Linked DNA regions of Homo sapiens. The protein of the gene in region 1 purifies or fractionates together with the protein of each later gene. This does not show direct contact. Each region holds a gene or a part of one and is shown in the gene's direction. Other genes may lie near its edges.

Evidence for each region. Proteins that work in one complex are often made in the same cells at the same time.
Region 2: the proteins of ABLIM2 (region 1) and CSF1R fractionate together in Homo sapiens (co-fractionation; one large-scale study listed by BioGRID). This does not show direct contact.

The regions. Positions count from the first base shown.
Region 1 is NC_000004.12:8,156,714-8,160,313, reverse strand, and holds the start of ABLIM2 (actin-binding LIM protein 2), read left to right. Parts: upstream 1-1,500; 5' UTR 1,501-1,624; coding exon 1,625-1,634; intron 1,635-3,600. UniProt on the Homo sapiens protein: May act as scaffold protein. May stimulate ABRA activity and ABRA-dependent SRF transcriptional activity.
Region 2 is NC_000005.10:150,080,055-150,083,725, reverse strand, and holds part of CSF1R (macrophage colony-stimulating factor 1 receptor isoform a precursor), read left to right. Parts: intron 1-2,701; coding exon 2,702-2,959; intron 2,960-3,389; coding exon 3,390-3,671. UniProt on the Homo sapiens protein: Tyrosine-protein kinase that acts as a cell-surface receptor for CSF1 and IL34 and plays an essential role in the regulation of survival, proliferation and differentiation of hematopoietic precursor cells, especially mononuclear phagocytes, such as macrophages and monocytes.

The DNA.
Region 1 (3,600 bases):
AGGGCAAGTGGCAGCAGGGTGTACCTACGGCAGGTGGGTGCCTGGCCTACCTCTCAGGCTATGATCCAGGAGTGCCAGGTGCCAGCACTCTCCCCTCCCCTCTATCCTTCTCTCCGTTTATTCAACAGATATTTGCAGACTGCCTGCTCTGTGCCAGGCCCTATGTTAGCCACAGAGAATAATAATAGCAAAGCAAAGACATTTATTGATCTCAACTCACACTGGGTCATGGCACACATTAGTTCACTGATCCTTAGATCTGGCGCCCCCTCAATTACATGGCACAAGATCCCAGTGGACTGGCATGGGAACCCTGCGGCTGCGGGCAGAATCACCTAGCTGGGCCTCCTGGATTTCTAGGGTGTGTGGGGCTTGGCTGGTTCCCCAGGACTTCAGCTCCCCCACTGAGCCACTGTACTCCTGGCCTCCCATCCTGGCCCCTCTTGGGGGAGATGGCTGCTGCTGAGGGAGGGGGAGGAGTACCTGCTCCTGCCTCAGTGTTCCATTCAGTCTACATTTTCTGTGCCCAATCTTCTTCCACTTGTTGAAAGCATCTCCAAACAGCCCTGGCCCAAGCCAAAAGTCCTTGGCCTCTCTCTCCATGCCAGGTTCCCGCGATTCTGCATCCTAAATGCTCCTCCAGCCCAGGCCCTCCGCGCCTGGTGGGCATCCTTGTGTTTGCCGGCTCCTCCCGACCTCTCTGCAGCTCGCCTTTTGTCGCACCAGGCACACAGTGGGGACCCCTGCTCCTCCCCGTTCCCTGACTCCCTCTCCTGCACCCGCGTCCAGGCCCTGTGCTGGGCGCCTGATGTCACAGGGTAGCCGGTCACCGTGGAGGCTGGGGCCGGGGACTGCGCCGAAGTGAGCCGCGCCACCTCTCCCGGTGCACCCCCCAGCTGGGCGCCAGCCGGCGAGGAGCGACGGGAGCCTGGGGTGGGTGGCGAGGCGCGGACAGCCCAAGCCCGGAGGCAGGAAACCTGCGCACGAATCCCCACCAGTGCAAGCCTCGCCGACGGATGCGGGCTAATCCTGCCCGAGCACCGCCCCCGCCTCAGTTTCCCTCTCTGTAAACTGGTAAAGAAGAGTTGGCCCAGAAGGTCTTCAGGCGCCTTGTAGCTCGACTACTCAAGAAGAGCTGCACCAAGCTCGCTTTTCCCTGCGCCGCTCTCCTAGCGACTCCCGGATTCCGTGAGCGGCAGTCCCCACGTCGCCCCTCAGGCCGTGGCGACAGCTCTGCAGAGATCTAAGAACGATTGCGAAAGGCCTCAGCCGCCGTCGCCCGTCTGCGCCTGCGCTGGCCGCGAAGCGTGCTGGGACTTGTAGTCCGATCGCCCCGCAGCTGGGGAGCCAGGCGGAGCGGTGGCGTCGAGGTGCCTACACTTCCCAGGGTGCTCCCGGGCGGCAGCGGGGGCGCGGGGCGGGGCCGCCAGGAGGGGCGTGAGAGTGGGCGTGGCACGGGCGTGGCCTGCGCGCCGTGGGGCTGCGGCGGCGCTGCCTGGCGTGTGCGCAAGGAGCGGGCGCGGAGCCGGCGGGCGGGCGGAGGATAGCGCGGGCGCGGCACCTGCGGGCCCGAGGGTCTGGCTGTCGCAGCGCCGGGCCGCCCCGACTCCGAGCGGCTGCTGAGATGAGTGCAGGTGGGTGCTGGGGACCGAGGGACCAACGGGTCCCCGCGCTGGCTCGCGGCGCCGCAAGGGCTGGGTGGCATTCGGAGGCTGCACCTGCAACGCCGGGGAAAATCACCCAGCGGCTCCACCCAACTTTTGCTCCAGGATTTTGCAGCCCCGAGGGGCCAGAGCGCAGCCCTCTGCCCTGCGCCCGGAGCGCGTAGCTCAGTGGCGCGGGCCGGGGATCCTTTCCCAGCGCGCCGGCCGGCGTGGCTGCGCCAGGATGTCTGGAAGGCGCCCCTTCTTTGCTTCTCACGGGGGTCCGGGTTGTTCCAGGCTGCAGAAAGCGGTCAGGGTCCGCGCGGGGGCCTGGGGTCCGGGCGAAGGGCCGGGGCCCCAGCAGACCTAGGCACGCAGAGGTGAGATGATAGGCGGGGCTTTGCAGCTGGGGGCGCCGCCCTTGCGCCGCTCTGGCAGCGCCTGGGTTGGGGGCGTCAGGCCGACCCTCGGCGCCCAGGACTCTCCGCAGCAGATCTGGGGACCCGGAGCCCGCATGTGTCAGACCCGGCCCCGACCCGATCTCTGCGCGTCTCCAGCCCCTCGCCCCTGCGCGTCGCACCCCTGCCTTTCCCGCCGCACCCACCCTCCGGGATCTGACAGCCTCTGTGCGGGGCTGGAAAAATCCCACAGCGCTGGAGCCCAGCCGCGCCTTGTGCTGTTGGGGAAACTGAGACCTAGAACTGGAGCCCTTGGCGGTGAGCCCTGGAGGCGGCCTGAGGATGCCCGGATCTGAGAGCCTCCTGGGGCCCGCACCGGGCTGAGGGCTTGTCGTTGCATTCCCGGCAGGGAAGGGCTGTCACCCCATTTTTCAGGGTGTGACCCGAGGCGCACCAGGCTTGAGTCACTTGCTTGGCTCAGGAAGGGGGGGCGGGGATTCGAACCCCGGGCTCACTGACTCTTGTGCTCTTTCCTCTAAGCCTGTCGCGCCAGGGACTGCAGTATGGCCCTTGGCCATGGTGCAGAAACCAATGGGGACAGCCGCTTCCCCTGAGGGAGATCGGACTGGGGAGAGAATGTGAATTTAGTAAGAGCTTCCTGTGGGCTGTAGGCCTAGAAGGGGGCGGGGGCTAAGGGCCAGGGACTCCCCTCCCTGGGGAGATTGTCTCCCTCCCCCTCCAATCCAAGGAAGGAGGGACGGCGTTGCCGGGAGCCTTTGGGAGTAGCTGAGAGCAATGGCAGGCGGTTGGGGAGGTCAGAGGCAGAACCCTTTGGAAGAGGATTTCTGAAATGGCCAACCTAGTTATCTGGGAGTGGCTGGGGAGCAGGGCACCCTGAGACTTGGCAGAACCTCCAGACACATTTATCTAATGGCAGGTGGGGATAATGGCTGGGTGCACACAGAGTAATTTTATGCTTCTTGTGGCCATAATTGATACCTGTGGTCCCCCCTGTCATCAGGGAGAGCCTCAGAAGCAGTGCTGGCATCTCTCCTCTGCATCTGACGAGAAGGGGTGTGGGGGCACTGGGGCAGTTGGGGGCAGAGACTGGGGTTTGAACCATGGTGACTGCCTGGTGGTCTTAGGCATAGGTGGCACCTTCCAGAGCTTGGCTTCCTGACCTGTAAGAGCAGTAGCATTGGTTGCCTGGAGGGGACAAGGTACAACATGAAGAGCCCCACACCTGGGAGGCCCTCGGTAGTTTGGGATGGTCATTGCTGGGTGGCCAGCTCAGCTCAGACCCTCTGAATCAATCCAGCCCTTTGGAACTGGCAATGTGTGCTCTCCGGGCCACCTGTCGCCCCTGCCCAGCCCTGTCCCCAGCCGATGATGCGCACAGCAGGCATTCCACCCACACAGTGGGGGAGAGCAGACAGCATGGTCCCTTGTTCCTGGCATGTGGGCTCTAACGTCCGGCCACTGTGTATGTCTGGCAGGACAGGAGCTTCCATCATCAACAAGGGCAACAAGGGCAGGTCCCCTGTGGCCCTCCCCACACC
Region 2 (3,671 bases), on another chromosome or scaffold:
TCTTGCATGACTCAGTTTCCAGCTTGATTTTTCCTTTTGGCAGAGTGAATTAGGGTCCCAAGTTTTTATTTTCCCTTCACAGGGGCATGGTGTGTGGGAGGGGGGCCAGATGGTTTTCCAGGGTCCAGTCCCAAGAGAAAGAAGAGATGGGGAGGCTGGAAACCTAAGTTTTCAGCCCAACAGACCAATGATGAGTGGATGAGGGGCCACTGTGAGGAGACTGGGGATGGTATTGGAGGACCCTAGAGAGAGAGGGGGGCTCTCTCTTCATTACTGCGATGAGATCCTGGGCTGAAGAGGGGCTGTGTCCAGCCTTAGTGTGCAGTGTGTGTGTGTGTGTGTGTGTGTGTGTGTGTGTGTGTGTGTGTGTGTGTGTTGGGAGAGAAGAGTAGAGATTGGGGCACATTCTGGAAGTGATGAGGGAGGGGCTTCCAGGCAAGTGGGAGCTAGTGGAGAGGTGTGGGGCATGGGGAGAATTGGGGAGTGGAGATGAGAGGGGGGAAGAATGGACAGGCACAGAAGGGGACCTCAGTTAATGTTCATAAGCCCATGCCCCCACCCCGAGGAGGATGGGGGCCAAGCCGGCTTCCTTCCCTGCTAGCCAAGCCAGCAGGGGAAGTTGGCTGCGGAAGTTGCGGGTATCAGCCTTATCCTGCGTGAATACCTGGGACAATAGGATAGGACAAAATAGGGCAGACACCGCTCCCTGACCACATTTCCTGGAGGCCAAGGCAGGGTCTAGAGAGACAGGCTGGGGGAAGGGATGGGAGAAGCCCACTGTAAGGTGTGAGGCAGGTGTAAAAAAGGAACAAATGGAATCACAGAATCCAAGGTTAAAATCTTGAGCGATCAGAGTTGGCCCAGAAGGGACATTAGAAATGTAGCAATTAAAGCAGGTGCCCAGGGCAGGAGTAGTTCTATACATCATCTCACTCAACCTTCAGCTGAAGTTTTTGGGGTGGGAGCTGGGATTATTCCCATCAGACAGAAGAATAGCCTGAGGCTCAAAGAGGTTAAGAAACTAACCCAGCTGGTAAGGGAAGAACCAAGATCCAAACCCAAGTTGGTGTGAGCCCACACTCCAAGCTGTTTCCTGCTATAAAACCCCGGCCTGGGGGCCCTAGATTGCTGCAGCAGTGATAGGGCAGCCCCAGCTCTGTTGAGATTTGCTAAAAAGGCTGCTAGAAATGACACTTGTCCCTCTTCCTGGCAGTTGCACTGCATAGGAGGGCTACAACCCCAGGTGGCAGGCTTGGCAGTATTCACAATTCACTCAATCTCGTTTGCTGATCAGAGTCTTGGGGAGAAGGGATGCACATTCTGATGAATACAAAATCAAAACGTGAATTAAGCCATCCTGAAAGGACTTGAGAGAGGAAACCTTTCCAATTCTGGGCTCTATGGTGGGGCAGGGGGAATTTCCATTTCAAGGGGGTTTGCAGAGAACAATGGAGATACCCTGAATTCACCGAAAGCCCTCGGGGCTGGCCTGTCATTGTGCCCCCATCACTGGGAAGAGGAAGGGCCAGAGCTGAGGAGTTGGATGGCCAGGGTCAGCCAGTGGGTCAGCGTCAGAGCCCAGCCTCACAGCTGCCCCGCAAGTGGCACTCCCTCTCCCTGCCTGGAGAGAGGAGAGTGGCTAGGAGGCTGGGGAAGCAGAAGTGAGAACATCCCTGTAGAAGGGCCACAGGCTGAGCGGAAACCGGGGGCTGAGCCTGACGCCAACAATGTGTTTCCGCCCACACAGGCTGGGGGGCGCCTGGCAGCCCCTCGGAGGCTTGAATCAGCTCTCACTTCCCTCCTTTGCCCCTATTTTAGGCCCTGGAAAAATGCTGACGCTGCAGAGGCAACGGGCCTTCTTCCCGGACAGCCTGATAGGGGTTTCAAGTTCTCTTTTCTCCTTCAAGAAAATTTTCCTTAAAAGAGATTGGCTTCCCAGTAAACACAGATGTGTGGGGGTGCCGGGGTGAGCTGCTGGGTGTAGACTAGGTAATAAACATAGTGACTAACTCTTACTGAGCCATTTATTTGGTGACAGGTGATGTTCTAAAGTCTTCCCATGCATTTAAAATGCCTAACATACCAATGAGTGGGTACGATGATTGTCCCTGTTTTATAGGTGGGGAAACTGAGGCATGGCACCTCCCCATCCCACTGTGCTGCAGACCAGATGTCCATTGGTGGGAGCGGGCACACCAGGAGATTCTTGGGACCTCTCTAACTCTGCTGGGCTAAGATCCTACATCTCTTTTTTTTTCTTTCCCATATGAATTAAGCTGAGGACTTGGCCGTGAACATTCCATTCATTTGTTTCTTCATTCGGTGGTAGAAATACGTCCACTTTGTACACAGGGTTAAAAGAGTCCATTCCTGGGGAGTAGAAAGATGGCATCACAGCAGGGAAGACTGAGGCAGGAGGCTGAGGACCCCAGGGGGACAGAGGCCTGGGTGAGAGGCTGAGCAAGCTGCAAGCCCCCTTTCTCAGAGGAGGGACCTCCTGGACATCAGAGACATCAGTCTGTCCCTGAGCAGGTTGAGGGTTAGGAGCTGAGCAAATGACCAGGGGGCAGGGGCTCGTTCAAGGTGGTCCCTTGATGGCACAGCACCATCCCTGCCAAGCTACCACCCATCTCAGAGTCAGGACGGCCCAAGGGGCGCATCCTAGACCTCACTTCTGTCTGCTGTCCCTCTCTCCCACCAGGTCAGGGAATCCCAGTGATAGAGCCCAGTGTCCCTGAGCTGGTCGTGAAGCCAGGAGCAACGGTGACCTTGCGATGTGTGGGCAATGGCAGCGTGGAATGGGATGGCCCCCCATCACCTCACTGGACCCTGTACTCTGATGGCTCCAGCAGCATCCTCAGCACCAACAACGCTACCTTCCAAAACACGGGGACCTATCGCTGCACTGAGCCTGGAGACCCCCTGGGAGGCAGCGCCGCCATCCACCTCTATGTCAAAGGTGAGGAGTCTGAGCCTCCTCCCAAGAGGCCTGACCCGGCAGGCCCCACTACAATGGGCCCTAAAATTAACAATCGTAACAATTCAGCTCTGCATTTACTGAGTGCTGGCTATGAGCAAGGACCTGGAAGAGCTGCTAATGTAATGCAGTCCTCACAACAACCCTGCAAGTCGGGTCTATGATGATGCATTTTCTAGAAGTGCAGGGAGGTTATCCAAGGTCACACAGCCTCACATAGTGGGACTAGACTGGAGCCCAGGTGCGCCTGACTCTGGAGCCACCACGCTGAAGCATCCGCTGAACTGTCCTGGCGTGGTGTGACCTCAGATGAATGATCAGCCTCTCTGAGCTTCCTTGTCACCTATGTCCAGGTACTCCTTGGCCCAGTGGAGGGAGGGCAGTTGTAACCCTGTGCCCTCCTCTACTCTAGACCCTGCCCGGCCCTGGAACGTGCTAGCACAGGAGGTGGTCGTGTTCGAGGACCAGGACGCACTACTGCCCTGTCTGCTCACAGACCCGGTGCTGGAAGCAGGCGTCTCGCTGGTGCGTGTGCGTGGCCGGCCCCTCATGCGCCACACCAACTACTCCTTCTCGCCCTGGCATGGCTTCACCATCCACAGGGCCAAGTTCATTCAGAGCCAGGACTATCAATGCAGTGCCCTGATGGGTGGCAGGAAGGTGATGTCCATCAGCATCCGGCTGAAAGTGCAGA